Linked DNA regions of Homo sapiens. The protein of the gene in region 1 interacts with the protein of each later gene in a pairwise test. Each region holds a gene or a part of one and is shown on either strand. Other genes may lie near its edges.

Region 1 (2,915 bases):
AGACATCCCCATCCTAGCTTCTGTGAGAGTTAAAAATCTCAGGTAAGAAGGCAAGGAAGGCTCTGTTAATTTATAGCTGTTTAGAGGGGAAAGCAGTGCAGACCACTTATTAAGCCCGCTGAGGACTAGCTTTCTGTCTTTCATACATTTGGGAAAGATAGGAATGACTGTTTCAAAGAAGAGAGGTGCACATAATTTATGCAGGCAAGTATGATACTTATTTCATTGGTTTTGTGAGTCATATATATACATATATATATATACACATATATATATGACTTGAAAATTAAGATTTAATACTTTAATGTTTTAAGTGTGGGGGGTTTGGGAAGGAAGGAATGTAATATTATGGATTTAGCCTTAGGCTTTAAGTTTTAGGCTGGCAAAAGAAATGTTATTCAGTGGGTTTGAGGTTTGGACTACTTTCTTCAAACTTAGAGAATTATAACAGGATGGTGTTTACTTTGTTCACCTGGATGTCCCCAAGACTCTAGCTTCTTCTATCAGTGGTTGGTCTGATAGAAGAGGTAAAAATTGCTCTTGAAAATGTCCTACAATTTATGCAGTTTCTTTGATAATATTTTTCTGTTTAAATCCCTGCTTCTGTTTTTGGTCTGTTACCTAAATATAGTTCAAGTTTAATTCTGTAAGAGCAAAGAAATGAATTTGATGAGGAAATTAAGCATCCAATGGAGGATTGGTCTTGAAGACCTTAAAGGTGCTTTCCAACCTGCACTGCTCCAGTGAAATGTGGTACTTTTTTCTTTTAAAAGCAACCAAGAGAGCTGGGAATATCTGTGTACGCAAAGTAATTGCATTTTGTCCCTTCATTTTGACTTTCTTAGATTCATAATTTGATACAGTGCTTAAACTTCCAAGGAAATTTTAAACAATTACTACATTACCTGTTCAAAATAAGGCTTGTTGGAAATCCTAGTCCATCAACTAATTTCAAAAATTTATTTTTGATATGAGTAGCAACAGCTGGTCATATACCCTATCCCAAAAGGAAGAACTGTCTTGAACAAGATGAATGGAAAATTGTGGTTAATTCTGAATTTCATGTAATGACAACATATTCTTTCATAAAACTATGGCCTGTTTAAGATGGAACTTTGTGTGTGTCTGCTGGGGAGGGTGGGGTACATGTGTATGGCGTGTGTTCTTGAAATGATGTCTCTCTGAATATCCAAAAAAGTACTGTACTGTAGAAATGCTCTTTGAAAAAGTCTATCGACTGACCATGATCAATCTAGCATATGTATGTTCAGTGGGCTAGCCTTGGTCCTCAGGGACAGTGTGTGACTCTAGTGGTCTTCCTAACCAGTCTCTTGCCTAAAGATATCTGGGACCTCTACTGGCTTTAATGACAAATAATGTTATGTTGAGGTTATGCTTCCTTTGTTATTTGCTGATTTTCCTACTAAATGTAGCATTTCAATTAGATCCAGCTTTCACATTTTGAGATAATTGTAAAAAGAATGAAATTATGCAGAAATGGCCAATATCTCTTATCAATCTGTTCTTTTGGAAACCCTCATGTACTATAAATTGTGTACAGTTAAAAAAATATATATATATATATATTCTTACATGAGTAAAAAGCACCCTCTCCCAGCAATCGTATGCCATTGGTATTTGAAGAGAATTCCCAAATAACCCATTGCTGCTGCTGCTGTTTTTGATTTGTATGGGTTTTTTTGTTTTGTTTGTTTTTGTGTGGTAAACTGATATTTAAAAAAGGAAAGGAGAAAAATCACGACTACTGTTTACAGACTGAAAAATTATTGCTTTTTATACTACTGAGATCCTAAGTTAAGACTCTCCAAAGCAAACATTTGGTTTAAATCATTTATCTGATGTAGATAAAAGGTAGAGAAACTTGTAGTGTTCTCCACATAATGGAAAATGTACAAATGCCTAGTTGTGTTGCCCATCAATTTTGTATATTTTCATAATTTTAATTGTTGAAAATTGCATTATATTTTGCAATCACTATGTTCAATCTGGATTTGTCTTTCATTTTAACTTTTAATATAAAAAGGGGTTTCAATGTATCTACAGGCTTGTTATTGAAACTTCCTACTTATTTGATGTGATTTATTAATATAGGAAGTATATATTCTTCCTTAAGTAAGTGAAGCATAGCAAATCTACTTTAAACTGGATGGGTTAATTTATATAAACATTTTCATTTTAAGTTGGCATTTCTGCCTGGTTCCTTTTTGTTCAGATTCTTAGAAGCCACAACCTTCTGAATGGTGTAATTCATCTCAGTTGTGAATTTAGGGCTATATCCCAACATATTTTTAATATTTGAGAATTTAGAATTTTTATTTGAAGTCAGCTAGTCCTTTTGACTCAAAAGTTAGTACCTTCTGTACTTGCAGTTATTAATTCAACATATATGTATTGAACACTTAAATTAGCATATAGCAGATTCCACTTTAGGCTCTGGTGAGACCCTGTGTCCTAGTTAGTAAGTGAGTAACATATATCCTAGTTAGTGGCTGTGAGGTGGGGAAGAGGCAATAAAAATATTAGTTTGTAATTACATCCTGCTTAATAATGTAAATCACAGTATGTGAATTGAGTGTGTCTAGAGGGTCACTTCAGAATGGGTCACAGGAGGACCTCCTAAGTGGTGACCTCTGATCTGAATGATGAACTGTCAGGAAAAAAGTAACACACATGCAAATGCCCCAAGGCAGGAAACTGCTGAGCCGGTTCCAGGAAGTGAAAAAATGTTCAAGTGGCTGGGACTTAATGAAAGGGGTAGGATTGAGATAGAAAGTTGAGTAGGGATGAGAGCCATCAGGACTTAGTAGTCCGGGGAAGGAATGAGATTTTATTCTAAATTTAGTGGGAAGTTACCAGAGGATTTCAGGCAGGCTGATGACATGATTTATCCAAGG
Region 2 (3,820 bases), on another chromosome or scaffold:
AACAAAATTTTTTGTGACTTTACATTTTGTATAATTTCTTACAGAGAAGATACAGGTGGCCCTCCACTCCTGCCTCCCACCCATATTTTCCAAGTGCTTGCATTTTGCCCCATTTATTTGTGTATAATCATATTATATTTTTTTCCGGACTATTTAAAAGTTGGGTTGAAGACATTGTACTCTTTTACCCCTAATTTATTAAGGCTGTGTTTCTTAAGAACAGGGACATTCTCTTACATAACCACAGTGTAATTATCAAAATCAGGAAATTCAACACTGATACAATCCTAGTATCTAATAATCCTCAGGCCATAATCAAATTGCTTCAGTGTCCCAGTGATTCCCATCATAGCGATTTCTCCTCCAATCCGTGATCCAGTTCACGTAACACAGAGCACTGAGCCAACCTTTTCTCCTTTCTTCCAACTGTTCCTGTCTTCCTTGTCCTTCATTGACCTTGACATAGTTTCAAAGGACAGACTTTTAAAAGCGCCTCAGTGGGGACTAGTCTGATGTTGCTTGTGGCCAGATGTAGTTGTGCATTTTTATTTTAATTTAATTTGTTACTTCTTTTGAGACAGGGTCTTGCTCTGTCACCCAGGCTGGAGTGCAGTGGCACAATCACAGCTCACTGCAGCCCCAAACTCCAGGGCTCAGGTGATCTTCCCACCTCAGCCTCTCAAAGTGCTGGGATTACAGGCAAGGACCACTATGTAGTCCTGGCTAATTTTGTACAGATGGGGTTTTGCTCTATTGCCCAGGCTGGTCTCAAACTCCTGGACTCAAGCAATCCACTCACGTCAGCCTCCTAAAAGTGTTGGGACGACAGGTGTGCACCAACACGCCCAGCCAGTTACGCATTTTTGGCAGGAAAAGCATAGATGGTATTGTGTCCTCCTCAGAGACGCCGACTCCCCATGATGCTCATTTTCTCAGGGTGCCGACGTGGACCCGTCACTTGCCAAGGCGACCCCCTTCCTCCTGGACCCTTCACTGCAATGTTACTATTTTTCCTTTTGCAATTAATACGTTGTGGGGAGTACTTGAAGGTGTTTAAAGTATTGAGTAGGTAAATACCTGTTTATTACTGAAATTCCAGAGTTTTAGGAGCCAGTGACAGCATTCCAACGTCATCCTTTCTGTCTAAGCAGCAGCTGTCGCTTCTCCACATTTCCTTGTCTTCTTATGTGTGAGGCCCCGTCTGCTTTCCAGTGTGGCGTTTTGTCTTCTTCTTTTTTTTTTTTTTTTTTGAGATGGAGCCTCACTTTGTCACCCAGGCCGGAGTGCAGTGGTGTGATCTCGGCTCACTGCAACCTCCACCTCCCGGATTGAAGCAGTTCTCTGCCTCAGCCTCTCGAGTAGCTGGGATTACAGGCGTGTGCCACCGCACTTGGCTAATTTTTGTATTTTTTTTTTTTAGTAGAGACGGGGTTTCACCATCTTGGCCAGGCTGGTCTTGAACTCCTGACCTCGTGATCCGTCCGCCTCAGCCTCCCAAAGCACTGGGATTACAGGCGTGAGCCACCGTGACTGGCTGGGGTTTTGTCTTCTTTACCTGAAGGGCCCCATGCCTGCGGCCTGCACAGGTCTGGCTGTGCCCGTGGCTGCGTGCTGCCTCCTTGTGGTGAGGCTGCTTTGCTTTGTGTTGTGTGATTTTTGATTGCCAGTGCATGCTCTGTGGAATTTTATCTATGGTAATTCTTGGACACCTGGGTTCAAAGTTTTCTCCTCCAAGGAGGGTTTGTGCTGGCGCTTGTGGACACTGCCTCACAGGACCCCCTGAAGCTGAGTTTTTGGCTTGGAGTTCTGGAACCACACAAGAGTGAATTCGGTGTCGGGTGAGGCCTGCAGCCCTGTCAGGGTGGCTTGTGATTAGGAATTCCCAGGAGATTTTTTTTTTTTTCCTGCTTCACCCAAAGGGAAGGCAGGGACTGGGAAGTACCTCAACTGTTTCCTCTGGCGGGTGGCTGTTTCTAATTCATCCTTGGGGGTGTCACCTTCCAGGGGTCTCCAGTCGGACCCCACTCTGAAGGCCCCAGACCTCCCCCACTCATCAGGGGCTGCCAGAGAGGGGCAGTTGCCCCCAGGGCAGACCCAGCTCCAGGCTGGCAGGCCTTTCCGGACTCGTCTTTCTGGTCGTGTCTGGTTTCGAATGATGTCCTGTCTGCTAGCTTAGCCAGGCCTTTAAAATGCCCGGCATCTTCCTGGGGTTTTCTGCGGAAGGAGGCTTTGCCTTGTGGCTTGCTGGTTCTATGCCACGGGGAGGCACTCTCCACCCCGCCCGGCTGCTGTCCGTCTCTGTGGGGTGGGGTGGGGGTCGCATAGCCAACGTGTTCTGAATGGGTTTCCCAGAATGAATTCTAATCTTAAATGGGACTGTCACAACTTTATTTTGAATTTAGGTAAAACTCACTTTTGTGGCATACAAGTTTATGTGTGGGTGACTTGGGGCTGTTCCTCAGCTTTTGAGGACTTGTTAGATGTGAAGACTTGGTGAATTAAAATCTTTCCCGCCCGTCAGCGATGGGGCAGTGGTGCTGGGGGGCGGCGAAGCATGAGCAGCAGTTTGCTGAGGGGTCCCCAGGGGGCAACTCCTTTCTCTGGGCCTCAGGTTCCCCAAGGGCAACTCAGGGTGATGGCTGTTTCCAGAAGCCTGTACGGGGTGCCTGCTGGGGCGGGGCCCACAGGGCTCCTGGCGGGGCAGAGGTGGGGGGTGCCAGCCACGCCCCTGCCCTGCTCCCCGCAAAAGCACCTGTGTGCTCGGGGCAGGGGGCGGCTGCCGCAAGGGTGGGACCCGCGGGTTCCGAGGCTTTCCTGGTGGTGGAGACGCGCCGAGGCCGTTTCCACTCCAAGCCCCTTTTCCAGGTGGTGAGCCGGCTGGGCCTGGACTCCCTGTGCCCCTTCAGCCCTAAGGAGCGGATCATCGAGTGAGCCTCTGCCCTCCCGCCCTCTTCTCACCCCTCCCGGGCTCTGCCTCTCGGGCCTTGCGGGGCGCTGGGGTCCCTGCGTGGAGACCCGGCTGAGTCCTCCCAGCGCCTCCCTTTGGGCGCCTACTCGGCCTGCGCCAAGCCGGGGTCTGGGGGCTGAGGGGGGCACAGAGACCCCGGCCGGGTCCCCGCAGGTTCTCAGCCGAGTGGTCACCTCCCCGTGGGTGCAGACGGGCGTGGGGCCTGGGGCCGCCCCGGGAGGACTGCGCTCCCCCCACCAACCCCGGCCAGACCCGCTGAGCCGCGCCCACCCTGCAGGTACCTGGTCCCTGAGCGCGGGCCTGAGCGAGGCCTGGGCAGCAAGTCCCTGCGCGCCTTCGTGGGGGAGGTGGGTGCCCGCTCTGCGGCCCCCGGGGGCGGCTCGGTGGCGGCGGCCGCTGCGGCCATGGTGAGCGCGGGGGGAGGGGCAGGGGAGGCGCAGTTGTTGGGGGGAGGGCGGGGAGGGGGAAGGGCGCTGTTGGGGGGAGGGCACGGGGTGGGGAGGGCGCGGTGGGGCCGCCCTGGGTGGAGACGTGGGGGCCACACGGGTGGGACCCCCGCAGGGATCACCCGGGCCCCTGGCTCTTCCTGGGGTCGGTCCCGGGCCGTCTGGGGTCCCTGCGACCCCCACATCCACCCCTCTCGCAGGGTGCGGCGCTGGGCTCCATGGTGGGCCTCATGACCTACGGGCGGCGCCAATTCCAGTCCCTGGACACGACGATGCGGCGCCTGATCCCGCCCTTCCGCGAGGCTTCGGCCAAGCTAACCACGCTGGTGGATGCCGACGCCGAGGCCTTCACCGCCTACCTGGTGAGTGGCGGCCACAGCAGGGCTCCCCGGGCCCCACCAACAGC

What was found.
Region 2: the proteins of NAA25 (region 1) and FTCD interact in a two-hybrid assay, tested with the Homo sapiens proteins (one large-scale study listed by BioGRID and IntAct).

The regions. Positions count from the first base shown.
Region 1 is NC_000012.12:112,025,981-112,028,895, reverse strand, and holds the end of NAA25 (N-alpha-acetyltransferase 25, NatB auxiliary subunit), read left to right. Parts: 3' UTR 1-2,207; downstream 2,208-2,915. UniProt on the Homo sapiens protein: Non-catalytic subunit of the NatB complex which catalyzes acetylation of the N-terminal methionine residues of peptides beginning with Met-Asp, Met-Glu, Met-Asn and Met-Gln. May play a role in normal cell-cycle progression.
Region 2 is NC_000021.9:46,145,373-46,149,192, reverse strand, and holds part of FTCD (formimidoyltransferase-cyclodeaminase), read left to right. Parts: intron 1-2,865; coding exon 2,866-2,927; intron 2,928-3,245; coding exon 3,246-3,375; intron 3,376-3,614; coding exon 3,615-3,776; intron 3,777-3,820.